2 separate regions of the Homo sapiens genome follow, and region 2 is linked to region 1. The links come from fine-mapping of genetic effects on gene expression. Tissue or cell type: whole blood. Region 1 holds a variant in brackets; the other region holds the start of a gene. All regions are shown on one strand. Distances are between the middles of the regions.

The links. PIP is the estimated chance that this variant, and not a neighbour inherited with it, causes the effect.
Region 2: it holds the start of AEBP1, and the variant in region 1 is fine-mapped to the expression of AEBP1 in whole blood (INTERVAL, PIP above 0.99).

The regions. Positions count from the first base shown.
Region 1 is chr7:43,834,074-43,842,178 of GRCh38, reverse strand. No RefSeq gene overlaps it. Among named protein-coding and RNA genes, the nearest start is that of MRPS24, 31 kb to the left of the region's middle. RefSeq lists a silencer at 3,008-3,087 and enhancers at 6,994-7,363, 7,275-7,569, 7,494-7,613. The variant G/A (reference allele first, on the strand shown) is at 4,252.
Region 2 is chr7:44,100,585-44,108,689 of GRCh38, reverse strand. AEBP1 (AE binding protein 1) reads right to left here and starts at 4,345. Exons shown (of 21, transcript NM_001129.5): 1 at 3,772-4,345; 2 at 1,803-2,144; 3 at 1,180-1,251; 4 at 990-1,061; 5 at 759-881; 6 at 606-683. The coding sequence starts at 4,024. RefSeq lists enhancers at 6,891-7,390, 7,391-7,892.

The sequences.
Region 1 (8,105 bases):
TTTATATTGCTGATTAGTATTCTATTACATGAATATATCCCAATTTGCCCATGCATTTTTGAGAGCAAAACTTGCCTCTTCTAACTTTGTTCCAGTGGTTGAAGATCTGTAAGTTAACTGACAATAGACACATTAGCAGGGGACAATACTTGGCTTCTTTTCCTGCAAGTATCTTTGTAGGACATAATGCACCAAATGGCAGGATCCAGTTTTCAAAGAGGTGAAAATAGCTCAAAGACAATGAACAGGATTAGAATCTGATCCTGTGAGATTCTAAAATCTCAAGAGTGAGTTATCGTTTTCCATTGAAACATAAAATTTTTTGTACAGTCACCCTTATTTTTGATGAAATATAATCAAAGTAAAATTATTCTTGTTTGCAAAATAAGTCTAGATCAGACTTAGAGTTTGCCTGATTATTTACATAAGTTCAGTAAGAATGGTAACCATATAGGTCTTTTTAAGTTGGCTTTCCTGGAACTTTTCATAAGGAATGTTAGGTTGAGGCTGGGCATGGTGTCTCATACCTGTAATCCCAGCACTTTGGGAAGCCAAGGTCAGGGGATCTCTTGAGCCCGGGAGTTCGACCAGCCTGGCCACAAGCAAAACCTGTCTCAATTTAAAAAAAAAAAAAAAAAAAAAGGACTATCAGGTTGGACTTTTAAAAGCCCTCTTGAGGCTAGGAAGCCAAGCCAAGGATCTACCACCAGACTTCACCTGCAGTAACTATAGATTTGGGTGAATTCTCCTCTTCTTGACCCCAAAATATCCTGTTTTCTGGTCTTTTCAGGAAGTGACCATCTCTACTCACTTGTTAGGTTTGGAACTCTGTAATTCAGGTATCAGGCTCCCTGTCACACAGAGGGTTTTGTAACCTAGAGGTTTTGGTGAACATTGGTTCTGTAAAGTCAACCTTAGTTCCTTAAAATTATCTGGTCATATCTGATCCTATGTACATCATTCTCAACTGGGACATTACAGTCAATGCATTTGTGACATTACCAATTTTCTCAATTATGTCCTGTTATAAGGTAAAGAGATTCTTATTGAATTTATGCAAATAACTATATTGCCATGAAACTAAAAATATTCAATAAGAGTTTCTAAATTCTGGAGGGATCAGGCAGGGAGAAAAAGATAAATATTTCATTTCTGTTTATAAAAGTATAGTCTCCTAAATTGTTATAGGATATAGTTATCATAAGAGAAAAAGTTTCTTTAAATCCAGAAAATAGAACATTAAAGAACCAGCAATAGTTGGGTGTGGTGGCGTATAATCCCAGATACTCAGGCAGCTGAGGTGGAAGGATGCTTCAACCCAAGAGTTTGATACCAGTGTGGACAACATAGTGAGGCTCCATCTCTAATCCATCAAAAAAGAAAAAAAAAAAGCCTGGCGTGGTGGCATATGCCTGTATTTCTAGCTACTTGGGAGGCTGAGGCGGGAGGATTGCCTGAGCCCCAAAATTCCAGGCTGCAGTGAGCTATGATGATGCCACTGTACTACAGCCTGGGACACAGAGCAAGATGCCGTCTCTAAAAATAATAATAATAGGCCAGGGGCAGTGGCTCACGCTTGTAATCCCAGCACTTTGGGAGGCCCAGGTGGGCTTGCTTGAGATCAGGAGTTCGAGACCAGCCTGGCCAACATGGTGAAACCCCGTCTCTACTAAAAATACAAAAATTAGCCAGGCGTGGTGGCAGGCTCCTGTAGTCCCAGCTACTGGGGAGGCTGAGGCAAGAGAATCGCTTGAACCCAAGAGGTGGAGGTTGCAGTGAGCCCAGATTGTGCCACGGCACTCCAGCAGCCTGGGTGACAGAGTGAGGCTCCGTCTCAAAAAAAAAAAAAAAAAAAGATATAAATTGGCTATGGTTAAGATCTAATGAAAGTTCATTATAATGCAAGGAAATTTGGTTGTTTCTGTGGCATACAACATTTAAAATACTAACTGAAATTATGACTTATAACATTACATTGGGACATATCTTGGATAGGGAGGACATTGACAAATTTCCAGGGACTTGACACAATTTCTGAAACAATAACATTTTACCCATACAAATATAACCTAGAGAAGGTTAGTATCTCTTTCTCTCTCTCTCTTTTTTGAGAGAAGGTCTCTTCCACCAAGGTGGGAGTGCAGTGGCCTAATCATGGCTTACTGCAGCCTTGACCTCCTGGGCTCAGGCGATCCTCCCACTTCAGCCTCCCTAGTAGCTGGGACTATAAGTGTGTGCCATCACACCCGGCTATGGTGTGTGTGTGTGTGTGTGTGTGTGTGTGTGTGTGTGTGTGAAAGCAAGTTTATTAGAGAAGTAAAGAAACAAAAGAATGGCTACTCCACAGGCAGAGCAACCTAATTTTTGTATTTTTTGTAGAGGTGGGTTGGTTGCAGGGTGCAGGGGTGTCTAGGCTGGTCTCAAACTCCTGGGCTCAAGCGGTTCTCCCACCTCAGCCGCTCAAGGTGCTGGGATTAAGGTGTGAACCACTGTGCCTGGCTAAGTAGTTCTCATTTGACATTGCTTTCCATGTGATTTAATGTAACTTTAGAATTTTTATAGCTTGTATTATTATTTTTTTGAGACGGAATTTCGCTCTTGTTGCTCAGGCTGGAGTGCAATGGCGCGATCTCGGCTCACAGCAACCTCCACCTCCCAGGTTCAAGCGATTCTCCTGCCTCAGCCTCCCGAGTAGCTGGGATTACAGGCATGCGTCACCACGCCCGGCTAATTTTGTATTTTTAGTAGAGACGGGGGTTTCTCCATGTTGGTCAGGCTGGTCTCGAACTCCCGACCTCAGGTGATCCGCTCGCCTCAGCCTCCCAAAGTGCTGGGATTACAGGCGTGAGCCACCGCGCCCGGCCAGCTTTGTATTTTAAATTTAAGTCAATGGACTATTTTGAATGAATTTTTGTGAAACTTGTAAAGTTTGGATCTACATTTATTTCGTTCCGATTAATAATTTCTTTAACATTTTTGAGAAAGACACAGGATAGTGGGCCCCATTTTATTTTGAACGTCCGTAATCATGGCATTGAACGATCTGAATTTAATTAATTCAACCAGACAGCCAGGAGGGGGCACGCGGCCACCGCTAAACAGTGAGCGAGCGCCGAGGGCCCCGCGCTGCCCCAGATGACCAGCAGGGGGCGTGCGAGCCGCCTTGTCGGACCCCTGAGAAGCCCCCACCGCCTCCGTGCTCCTACTGCGGCCGCCAGCGCCGGGCCCGCAGTGAGGAGGAGAACCTCATTTTCCTCAACACAGATCTAAGGGGACACCGCCTCACTTTGAGACAACTTGAGGCTGCGTCAGTGGTGAGTAAAATCCTTCCTGTCACAGTCCTGACTACTGAGGAGCAGTTGGTCTTCAGAACCCCCAGTAGAGGAAGGGCTTCATGTGGAATTTTGGAAATAAAAAACCCCGGTTTCCACCACACAGGAGGTCCTTCTCAACAGCTAAGACACAGTGGCTGCTAGTATAATACCACGCAGCAGCCTTTTAATACTAACATCACATTCAGAGGCTTACCAGGGAGACTGGTTTCCTAGCTTTGGCTGAACTGGATTTGGGTCAGGCTTAGCCTCTGGAATGAAGTTTGGTGTCACCTCTGCTTTACTGACGCGGTATTGACGTGGTTGATTGATTGATTGATTGATTTTTTTTTTCTAGAGACAGAGCTCCCTATGTTGCCCAGGCTCCAAATCGTGACCTCAAGTGATCCGCCCGCCTCAGCCTTCCAAAGTGCTGGGATTACAGGCCTGAACCACCATGCCTTAGCCTTATTTTTCATTTTTTAGACAGTCTCAATCTGTCAGGCTGGAGTGCAGTGGCACGATCATAGCTCACTGCAGCCTTTAACGTCTGGGCTGAAGGATCCTCCCGTTTCATCTTCCTGAGTAGCTGGGACTACAGGCATGCACCACCAAGCCTGGCTAATTTTTAATTTTATTGTAGAGAAGATGTCTATGTTGCCCAGGCTGGTCTTCAGCTCCTGGATGCAAGCGTTCCTCACGCAAGCGAACCCAGCCCACATGGTTGTTTAAAAAAGTAATTACTGAGGTCAGGAGTTCAAGACCAGCCTGGCCAACATGGTAAAACCCCGTCTCTACTAAAAATACAAAAATTAGCCGAGTGTAGGGGCAGGTGCCTGTAATCCCAGCTACTCCGGAGGCTGAGGCAGGAGAATCGCTTAAACCCAGGAGGCGGAAGTTGCAGTGAGCTGAGATTGAGCCACTGCACTCCAGCCTGGGC[G/A]ACAGAACAAGACTCCGTCTCAAAAAAAAAAAAAGTAATTACTTTTTGAGGCTGGGCGTGGTGGCTCACGCCTGTAATCCCAGCACTTTGAGAGGCCCAGGCAGGAGGATCACTTGAACCCAGGAGTTCGAGATCAGCCTAGCCAACATGGTGAAACCCCGTCTCTACCAAAAAATACAAAAATAGCAGGGCATGGTGATGTGTACCTATAATCCCAGCTACTCGGGAGGCGGAGGCAAGAGAATCTCATGAACTTGAGAGGTGGAGGTTGCAGTGAAATTGCACCTTTGCATTGCAGCCTGGGCGACAGAGGGAGACTGTCTTAAATAAATAAATAAATAAAAGTAATTACTTTTTGATAATTTCATTCTTATGGAAAACTTGCAATAGCAATACAAATCCCTGTCCTTTCTATCAAAGTCTCCAGTGGTTATTGCTGTACCAGATTTGTAATTTCACACAAAATACTTGTTTTTTTACCCAAAGCAGGGACACTCTCCCAGGTAACAATCACTCTCCCCTTTATCAGGAAATCGACAAGAATTACAAAAATGACCTGGGCGTGGTGGCACACGCCTGTGATCCCAGCTACTCAGGAGGCTGAGGCAGGAGAATCACTGGAACCTGGGAGGTGGAGGTTGCAGTGAGCAGAGATGGACCCAGTGCACTTTAGCCTGGGGGACAGAGTGAGACTCAGTCTCAGAAAAAAAAAAAAAGAAAGAAAGAAAAAGAAAAGAAAAAGAAATTAACACAGTGTCCACATGGCAATCCAGTCCTCAGACCTACTTTGCTTCACCACCTGCTCCAGTGTGGGTGGGAAAAAGATTATCTGCATTTAAAAATTTTTTTCTAACTCCTTGAGTGGCAGATAAAGCAATTTTTATGCCAGACACTGATACTTACATTATGGCTCTGAGCTCAAGATTTTAACCTGTCTGATCTGAGAGCCTAACTTTTCTAAACATTTATGTAATTCTTCTAGACTATTAGTCTTTCAATTACCTGTTTTGTCACCATACACAGTTGTTAGGCAGGCAAACCTAAATTTACATTTCCGAAAGGGACAGTTCAGGTGTCTAGGTTGTTTATCATGGAGCTGTTATTTGTAAAGTCATTAATTTGAAATGGCTTTAAGTCTTTTTTTAAAAAATCTTGGCTCAAATGTCATAAGCAGTGATTTTTATCTCAACACCAGCAGAAAAGTCAGCAGATTGAAAGTAGGCAGGAAAAAAATAAAATAGAGAGATAGAGAACTTCGAAGATTTTGCTTGTTAACCGCATAGTTGGTTGTAGTTTTCTTAGTGACCATCTGAGCTCTGAACTTTCCTTGATAGAATTTGCCCATCTGTTTCAAAATGTGCATGAGAATGAGCCATAATATAGTCAGCTGGAATCCTCAAAGGAAGGTTGTTTTGGCATGGCTTTAGAGTTTAGGATCTCATTCCATTTCTTTTTCTTTATTTTTATTTTTTTGTTTTTGTTTTTTTGAGACACAGTCTCACTCTGTTGCCCAGGCTGGAGTGCAGTGGTTTGACCTTGGCTCACTGCAACATCTTCTGGCTGGATTCAGGCTATTCTCCTTTCTCAGCCTCCTGAGTAGCTGGGAGTACAGGCGCCTGCCACCACGCCTGGCTAATTTTTGTATCTTTAGCAGAGATGGGATTTCACCATGTTGGCCAGGCTGGTCTTGAACTCCTGACCTCAAATGATCTGCCTACCTCAGCCTCCCAAAGTGCTGGGATTGCAGGCATGAGCCACTGTGCCCGGCTTCATTCCATTTCTTATTAATCTCTTGAGAGCAAAGAAATTCCCATAAATCTTTTCAGGGAATGTCAGGAGTTTGGACCAATATTTTACATCAATTTCAGTATGGTAACCACGTTCCTTCACCAAAGTAATACTTTTCACAACACACTGCATAAGTAACATTTGTGGAAACGTCTTTTTAAAATAGTATATAAATAACATTTCAGAAGCCTGTTTAACATGACTACAAACACTTCACTACATTCATTACTTCCTTACATGGAAGTTACACGGTTCACAACAAACTTTGTAAGTAGCATTTAAAAATTTTCTTCTACTTCTTTCCTATCTGGATGTCTGTCATGCTTTTTCTTGCTTGATTGTTGTGGCTAGGACTTCCAGTACTATATTGAATAGACATGGTGAGAGTTGGCATCTTTGTCTTGTTCCTGATCTTAGAGGAAAAAATATTTTCACAGTTAAATATGTTAGCTGTGGGCTTGTCAGAGATAGTCTTTGTCGTGCTGAGAAACATTACTCTTTTTTCAACATTCCTCTTTTGTTTTGGAGACAGGGTCTTGCTCTGTCACCCAGGCTGGAGTGCAGTGGTGCGATCTTGGCTCACTGCAACTTCTGCCTCCTCAGTTCAAGTGATTCTCCTGCCTCAGCCTCCCAAGTAGCTGGGATTACAAGTGTGTGCCACTGCACCCGGCTAATTTTTGTATTTTTAGTAGAAATGGGGTTTCACCATGTTGGCCGTGTTTTACCATGTTGGCCATCTTGAACTCCTGACCTCAGGTGACCCGCCCACCTGGGCCTCCCAAACTGCTGGGATTACAGGCATGAGCCACTGTGCCCGGCCTCAAAAGATTTTTAAATTTCTTCTTTGAGGCTGGGCACAGTGGCACACACCGGTAATCCCAGCACTTTGGGAGGCCAAGGCAGGCAGATTGCTTAAGCCCAGAAGTTTGAGACCAGCCTGGGCAACATGGTGAAACCCCTTCTCTACAAAAAATACAAAAAGCCAGATGTGGTGGTATGAGCCTGTAGTCCCAAGCTACTGGGGAGGCTGAGGTGGGGGGATCACTTGGACCCAGGAGGTTGAGGTTGTGGTGAGCTATTGAGCGACTAAGTGGCTAAGTTGGCTGGACTTCCTGGGTCAATAGGGACTTCCCTAAGGGGACTTTTCCCTAAGCCAAAATGAGTCATAGCTGCAAGCTAAGGGATTGAAACTTCAACCAATCAAAGGGGACTTTCTCCTAAGCCAAAATGAGTCATAGCTGCAAGCTAAGGGATTGAAACTTCAACCAATCATATAGGGAGTTTAAGCTCTAGCTGCAGCGTGATGTTTTTAACCAATCAGGCCCACCAACCCACAAGCGGATAGAAAATAAGCTAATCCTATAGGACAGGAAAAGGAAAAGGAAAAGGGAAGGAGTCATAAGGGCATATAAGCATAAGACACTCAAGCCAGGGCAACCCTTCCAGGTCCCCTTCCACCACGTGGAAGCTTTACTTTCACTTTTGCTTTACATTCACTTTCGCTTTAATAAATCTTGCTGCCACACACTCTTTGGGTCCACACGTTTCTCTAATTGAGCTGTAACACTTGCCACTGTGGTCCACAGCTTCATTCCTTGAAGCCCATGAGACCACAAACTCTTCGATCAAGAAAAACCTTTGATCGGAAGAAGACTTCTCATCTCACTATCATGTCACTGCACTCCAGTATGAGTGACGGAGTGAGACCCCATCTCAAAAAAAAAAATAATTCTTTGACCCATTGGTTGTATAGGAGCATGTTGTTTAAATTCTACATATTTGTGAATTTTCTGAAATTACTCCTATTATTGATTTCTAGTTTTATACCATTGTGATCAGAAAAGATACTTGTTATGATTTCAGTTTTCTTAATTTGTTATGACTTATTTTGTGACCTGATATATACTCTATCTTGGAGAATGTTCCATGTGCACTTGAGAAGATTGTGTATTCTGAATGACATGGTTTGCAGCTGTCCATAAGATCTGAAACATTATTTAAACATGTGTCTTCAGACGCTTCACTACATACATTACTTCCATTCACTAAAATAACACTGTTCATAA
Region 2 (8,105 bases), 270 kb before region 1:
CGGCCTTCCAGGAGCATCTGGCCTGGGGAAAGGACTCGAGGCCCAGGGCATGGGAAAGGCCTGGAGGGACAACTGGCACCTGTGCCTGGGGTTGCGGGCTGGGGGGTGAGATGGGGAGACATTGGAGGCACTGATGGGGACCTGGGGGCAGGGAAATGGCGATGCACGGGCTGCCACCCAGGAGGAAAGGGAACCTGAGGGCTCCAGGGACGCAGGGGCATGAGCAACAGGGAGGCAAAAGCCCTCGGGCTCCCTGAAGAGAGTGGGGCAGTGGCCACGAGCCAGCGGGAAGCCAGTTAGAGCACAGGACTGGGAGGGCTGGAACCCACATGGGTGACAGGGCAGAGTGTGTGCCTAGGGACACCCCTGTGGGGGTCACAGCCAAGCAGGAACCAGGGAAGCGGCCAAGGAAAGACCAGCCTGAGGGCAGAGGAGACAGGGCAGTGGCTGGGGTGGGCACGCAGGGACAGCAGGGACAGCGAGGTAACCACGGGCACAGGTGGGGTTGCAAGGTGGGTGAGTTGCCCCAGCTGGCTCCTGACCACACCCCAGCCCCGACCCCCACCTGCCTATGTCCCTCAGACTCTGGGGTGCTGGGTACTCACTGTCATCGTAGTTGGGGATCACGTAACCATCACCATAGTCAGGGGGCAGCGGGGGCAGCAGAGGCTTCACAGGAGGCTCTGGGGAGGCGGGGAGGTTAGGAGGGGGCCAGAGCGCCGTGGCCATGGCACCTCCTCTCCTGCCCCCCATCCTACCAATCCTCTCCTCCGGGGCTGGGGCCGGGGCCTTCTCCTCAGGGGGCTCTGGCCAGACCCGCTCGGGCCTCCTCCTTCTGCTTGGGGGTGGCCTGGGTTGCTTCTGGCGCCGAATGTACTCAACTGAGGGGGAGGCTGGCTCAGAGTGGGGCCCAAGGCTGGGATGGGCCCATTGGCACATCCCCCAGGCCAGGGGTCCGACCCAGGTGGGGCTGGCAGGACCCTACTCACAGTCCTCATAGTCCTCCCTCTCGATCTGGTCATTGTAGTCCAGTGTGGGTTGCTCGGTCTCCTCCTCCGGCTCTGAGGGGAAAGCGCTGGTAGCTGCCTGACAACCCCACCCAGGCCTACTCTGGGGAAGCCCTCAGTCCAACCAGCCAGGGCAGCTGGCCCCAAGGCCAGGCGGATGACGGCCACTCACCAGGCTGGTGCTCCCGTGCCTCCACATGGGTCTCCTCTCCTGGATTCTGCCAGTTATTTGAGAGGGGCGCCCCTGCAACACAGGAGTTCCAGAAGCAGGTGGGCGGGAGGCCTGCTCTGACCACCTTGGGAGCCTCAGGCCACCAGCCACCCATAGAGCCCACACAGAGCCTGTGGACACCCTCCTGAGGCCGAGCTCACTCCAAGGAGGCCTGAGCTCCTCTGGCCTTCAGCATCCTGCTGGCATCTCATGGGGCCAGAGAGCTGGGCCCACCTTCTGGGGAACCTACTGTGCTGCTGGAGGCCCTACCACAAAGCTGTCCCCAGCGGGAGAAGGCAGGAGGGAACTCCATGGGCTCAGAGCCCAGGGACATCTGGGCAGGGGCCTGAGGGACAGAGGTCCCACCCAAAAGGCTGCCAAGCCCTCTCCCTACCCAAAAGAGGCTACAGCACTGAGGGAGCCCACCAATCAAATTGTGAAATTTATAGCAAAAGTGAGGTTCCCATCCAGTGGGGAGCTGAAGGTCTATAGGAAGCAGGGCCCCAGAAACCTGCCTCCCACTCCCTGCCTCCACCCGAGCAGGCAGTCAGAGCCCCATCACCCCAGAGGAGCCCGGCACAAACCTCCCTCCTGGGGTAGCTCCTCGGGGCCAGGGCTGGGGGGTGGGGGCAGTGGCCACTCCAGGGTTTCTGAGGGAGCCAGAATGGGGGGCCTCTTCCCTGACGGGGGCTTCTTGGTGGCCTTGGGTGGCTTCTCTTTGGGCTTCTTGGTGGCCTTGGGTGGCTTCTCCTTGGGCTTCTTGGTGGCCTTAGGTGGCTTCTCCTTGGGCTTCTTGGTGGCCTTGGGTGGCTTCTCCTTCCCCTTCTTGGGCGGCCTGGGGGACCCCTCCAAGGACTCCTTGGGCACCTTGGGGCCTTTGTCTTTCTTGCCTTTCTTCCCTTTGTCTTTGGTCTTTTCCGGAGGCACTGTCCAAGATGCAGACTCGTGTCAAATGAACAGAGCCAGCTCTGTGCCCCCATGAGGCCCCTCTCTAGATGCCCAGAACCTGGGCACAGGGACTCTTGTCAGTTCCCAGTGCGGATCAGCAAACTGAGAGGTTAAGTCATTTGCCCAAGTGGCAAACTGGGATCCGGACCCAGATTTTCTGTCTGCAAGTCTGGGGCTGTGACCACCAATCTCAACCTCTCTAAAGACTGAGCGTAGGGTTCCCAGTTCCCAGGGGGAGGCCCTCATCCCCCCACCTGCCAAAACCTCAATAGGGGTTCCTTACTATCCACTCCTCCACTATTCTGTTCTGGGCACAGAAGGGGCAGAGAGGTGACTGAGCCATCCAGGCCTGGAGGAGCATCTGGTCATCCCTGCCAACTGCCATACAAAGGAAGGGACATGGGCCCAAGACCTTCCCCTGGTCTCCTACGGGGCAAGAAAAGCTTCAAAGAAAAGGGACACTTGGTTGAGTATTGAAGCCCAAAGAAGAGGAAGTGGTCTCCTTTCGAGAAGTAAGGGGTTTGGAATTGATTGGAAGGATAGGGAGTCCTGGGGGGTTCAGGGATCACACAGAGGACAGAAAAGACAGGTAGGGAGCTTGTGGCTGCACACTCATTTCAGAGTCTGGGAGAGGGAGCAGGGACTGGTTGTGAGGATTCCCCATGGGAATCCTCCCAGGACCCTAAGCAGGAGCTGCAAGTGCTGTTGAGAACCTGATGAGAGGTGGGGAGCATGAGGGAAGTTTGGCAGAAACACAGGAAAGCTACCAAATGCAGACAGCCAGGGGACGCAGGGCTGCTAGAGCGGTGCCCCAGAGCCAGGAGAGCAAGCCTGGAAGGAGAGCCAGAGGCAGGAGGGGCACAGGCAGCCCAGGGTGTGGGAAGCAGCCAGGAAAGATCTAGAGCTGGGGTGGCAGGGGAGGGGCTGCTGACATCAGGAATGTTGGATGGTGCCTTGGAATCTCCTGGGAGACAGGGATCACAAGACCCTCTGCCACCTTCCAGAGGGCCACGATGAAAACAGCTAAGATTTACTGACAACTGATTATGCAAGAGGCCGTGGGTTAAATGCTTCAGTGATGCATCACCTCATCTAATTTCCTGTACTAATGTAGGACCACCCATTGCTCACCACCACCTGAAGCCCTGTGCTCACCACCACCTGAAACTCTCTCACCTACGTGAGACCTCCTGGAGTAGGAGGGCAAAGGCAGGAGGGAGGGACGACGTGAAGCTGTGCCACCAACAGGGAGAGTGGTCCCATTAGTATGGCAGGGGGTGACACAGCACAGTCCCCTGTGGCTCAAGCCTAGTACCTGTCGCGTACTGGAGGAATGGGGATAAGCGACCCGTACAACCACAGCACCAACCCTAGAGCCACCGGCCCCCAAAAGCGGCCCTGCCGCCCGGGTGCTGGATGTGCCTCCACGCCAGCGCTGACCTCGGCCTAGCACAGGGTCCCTCCAGGCATCTGGGCTCGCGTGCGCATTAGTAAGCCAGCCATTCCTCCCCTAGCAGACTGGGGAGTGGCCAGACCCTACCGAATCCCCCTGTTCCCACCTGAGATGCCAGCCCCCCACACCCCCGCCCTGCCCTGGGCTCTTACCTTCTGCGGCCGTCCCTGGCCGCTTCCCTGGCTTGCCCCCCGCCTGGGCTTTTCGGACCCGCGGGGTGGGCTCGGGAGGCGGCGGGGCCTCCACGTCGTCCTCCCGGGGCTCAGGTTCTAGCTCTGACAGGAAGCCCTCGAGGAACTCCTCGATCTCGTCGTCGGTCAGCACCGTCTGCGGGCGCCCTCCAGGGCACAGGGCCAGCAACGCCAGGAGGCAGCTGAGCAGGGGCGCCCCGCGCACGGCCGCCATGGCCGCGGCACGCGCGGGGGGCTCCGGGGAGGGCGCGGGGGGTCAGGGGCTCTGGGTCTCTGGGAAAGGGCGGAGAGGGGATCGAGACGGGTGAGGGAATCCAGGAAGGGGCGGGAGAGAGGATGGGGTGAGCGAGGGAATCCGGGAAAGGGAGGGAGAGTGGATTAGGGTGGGCGAGGGGACCCGGGAAGGGGTGCTGGGGGGCTCCGAAGCCAGAGGGGCTCAGGGGTGGTCGGGGCGCTCCGAGGTCCTGGCGGCTAATAGGCGCTCCGGCCCCGCGTGGCGCACTCCCGCGCGGATAGCCGTCTCCAAAGCGCTGGCGGGGCCCGGGGCGGGGGCGCCGGGGCTTCCGGAGCCGGCTCCCCACCCCCGGGGAGGAGGAGGAGGAAGAGAAGGAGGAGCCGAGAGTGGACGGAGGGGCTGCGGGGGGGCGGGGGGCGGGGGGCGGGGGGCTAGGGGCGGGGCAGGCGGGCGGGCGCTGGCGGCGAGCGTCCCAAGCCCGGAGACTTGCGCCTAGGACAGAGGGGCAGGGGGCGGGGCGACTGGGAAGACAGAGGGCCTGAGGGAAGGAAAGGTGGTGGGGAGGGCCTGGGGTGCGGGTCTGAGGGGGCCGACATCCCTCCTCCTTCTGCCCTAGGCACCCCCCTTAAGGCGGGACCCCGAGTCCACCGGGGCTCTGAGCCCTCCGCGGGTGACCAGGAACCCTGGACGGAAAGCCGTGGTGTCAGGCCTCTGAGACCTCTCTCAATTCGGAGGGCCACAGAAAGGCCACCCCATCCTTCCCAGGCTCTGGAGCCTCTGCCCATGGGCCCTGCTGCATCCCAGCGTCAATTCATTCAGTCATCCTACCAACCTCTTCAGGTCGGTGTGGGGCCGGGCCCCGTGCTGGGCCCCAGGGAGGGACAGCACAGTGGGAACTCACTTTCCAGCCAGGAGGCAGGTGCAAAACTGCCCTCAGAGTGGCCAGCTGCCCCGCTGGGGGTAGGAGTCCCATGTAAGGGCATGCCATCCCTCCCCTCCGGGTCCCAACGTGGACAAATAGCCATTTATCACCTTCTTCTTACCAGAACTCATTTTTTAAAAAGTGTCTACCATACCTCCAGCTGCCACATGGACCCAGAGGGCCCAGAGGACCCAGAAGGCAGGTGGATTGAGTGTCAACTGATCCCAGGATCCATCAGGGATGTGCACCTTGGTGCCTGGTGTTTGCCATAAGGCTTCTCCAGGGCAAATGTTGGCTGCCCTACAACGGCCATCAACAGGCAGAGTGGTCCCATTAGTATGGCAGGGCGTGACACAGCACAGTCCCCCGTGACTCAAGCCTAGTCCCTGTCTCATACTGGAGGAATGGGGAGCTAAGGACAGAGCTCCGAGGACATTCCCCCTTAAAGGAATGAGGACACAAGAGAAAGCTCACAGGTAGTCCATGGGCCAAGTGCAGAGGCAGACAGCCCTAAGCCACGATTGTCTGCGGGGTTTGGCCCCAGTGAAGTAGTCAGGTAGGGAAGCCTAGGAGCCCCTGGGATGATTGACAGGGCAGAGTTTGGACCTGGGGTCAAAAGGAAAGAGGAAAAGTGGGTCAGGAAGCACCTGGGTCCCCAGAGCAGCCCCGAGTGAGTTGGAGCAGGCAGCAGCCGGGGAGGCCACAGTGGAGGCTGCTGGGCCTGGGATACATGCCACCCCCTGGGAGCAGGACCACAAGGAGGCCTTGCCTCCTCTCACACCTGGTCCTGCCAAGACCCTGCCTTTGCTTTCTCACTGCATCTCCTTGAAAAAGCAGTGGGACTGTGTCAGGTTCTGGCTCTACCTCCCAGGCACCACATCTCGGCAGGTAGCCTCAGTGCCGTCCACCTGTGTCCCTGTTCTCCTTGTCGTTCATACAGGATCATGCATGTGCTGTGCCTAGCACACATTCTTGGCACTCACACTGCTGCCTTTTAGCTCTCATCATTTGCCCTCAGAGATCAACCTGAGCTGTGCCCACTGGGGCGCTCAGAGCAGACCCTGAGCCCCAACACCCAGGCTCCCTGTGCACCTGAGCCTGCCTCTGCCTGCCACGTGCCCCCAGGCCAGTCCTGGTGGCAGCAAGGATCCGCAAGCTCTCCCCTTTCCTCATCCTCTGCAAAGCTCTGAATCATCTTTCTCAAAACTTGTTCTGGGAATTTGCTCCGTTGCCCCAGTTGAGCATGTCAAGCCCGGCGGCCCAAGGCTGGGGTGAAGCAGCGTGGCACGTCACTTCCCTGGGAACAACTCACACATGGATTGGATTTGGGTCCAACATCCTCTGCCAGGGAAAATAGAAGCCATAAGAAAACAAAAAAGGAACAGAAGGAGGCTTTTCTTCAGTCACAGCGAGTCACCAACAAAAACATGTGCAAAAGCTCTCATGGAGAGCTGGGCCACAAGGAGGGCCATGATGTTGGGGGCCCTCTGACACCAAGGGTGTGGGCAGGTGGATGGGAGGCAGCTGCCCTCCATGCCAGGCTGATGTGCCTCCCTTTGGGTGGTGGGGCTGGGACTCCCACTCCACTTGAAGACCTGCACCAAAAAGTCCTTTAGCCCTGTGCCCAGGCTCTGCCACGGGGCCGGTGAGGGGACTTCTCCCCTCTGCTGCCAGAGTGAAGCCAGTCAGGGGGATGGGAGGCTTGTAGCCAAGAGCACCTAGTGGCTTTCAGGGTCCCTTACCCCTGCCACTTAGCAGGGTCTGCACCTGCATCCAAGTGTTCTCCTGGGCTACAGTGGGGGGCTGGTAGACACTCTGGTGATCCACTTTCAGCTTCCCACATGGATGTGGCAGGGACTGCTTTGGCATTTCCCTACCCCAAGGGACAGCCACTGCGGCAGGACTGGGCTGGGGAGGGTGGGGCCTGCGCTGGGGAGGGTGCCCCCTGTCCCTTGCTGCTGCTGGAATGGGAAGGAGAGTTGTTGAGAGAGCCAGAACTGTCCAAGGGTGGAAGCTGGCGAAACTGACCTGCAGGGAACAGGGAGACAGGGAGCATGGCCCAGTGAGTAGGTCCTATGTAGCTCTGAGGCCATCAACCCTGCCATGAGGGCTGAGACCCCAAGAGAGAAGTTGAGGTTGGGTCAGGGGCCTGTTAGTGCCAGCTGAGGAGGGGGACAGGCCAGCCTCCTCCCACTGGGACCCAAGCTATAGCTCCTGAGCCTCCAGAGCTGCCTGGTGCCTCAACCTGGTCAGAGGTGGAAACTCACCTGCCAGCAGGCCCAGTGTGCCTGAGTTCTGACTGTGGGGATCTGCAGGGCACAGAAGGATAAGAGGTCATCAGGGCCTGGGGACAGGCAGGAGTGGCAGGGTCTGGGAGGCTGGGAGCAGACCCTCCCAACCTGCCCCATGGCCTCTGTGGCCCCCAGGACCCCCATGGCAGCAGCTCAGACACGGGTTGTGCCTCAGAAGGAAGTGAAGCTGTGTGTACCGAGATGGCCCAGCAAACCCTTTGTATGTAAACTTCCGCCACAGCCCAGCTGTCCAGCACCAGCATGTGTATCTGGGGGAGGGGGATAAATAGAAGGTCTGGGAGGCCTGGGATCTGGCCAGCAGGCTACTGGGATCACAGATGCCAGCCCCTCCATATCTCCCCTTGAGTCCTGGATCTGCCTCCTGGGACCAAAGGGGAAAGGACCAGGCTAGGCTCCTTCCTTTTTGTTCTTCCCTCTTGGGGGAGGCTCCTAGAAACTCCCCCTTCTCTGCCGCCCAAGTGCCTGGATATTACCAGTGGGGTTAGCCTGTTTGGGCCCACAAGATGGGATGGCTCCCAGAGCCATGGGACCTGAGGTCTCCCAGACAGTGTCTAGCCACCCTCACAACTGGCAGAACAATTTCCTTGGTTTTCAACAACTTGAAAAACATATGTGATTTTCCACAGTCCGGTGCTTCTCAGGCCTGGCTGCTGAGTGAGCAGAGTTCATGCTGAATTCCTTCCACTCACCACAGGGCAGACAGCAAGCCCAGCTGTGGGGACTCGGTTGGGGTGGGGGTCACCACAGCAAGGCGCGGGGAGTGGGGAGGGGGGCAGGCTTCCAGCACTGATGAGTAATTCTGCTGCCCGAAGATCTGGGAAGAGGG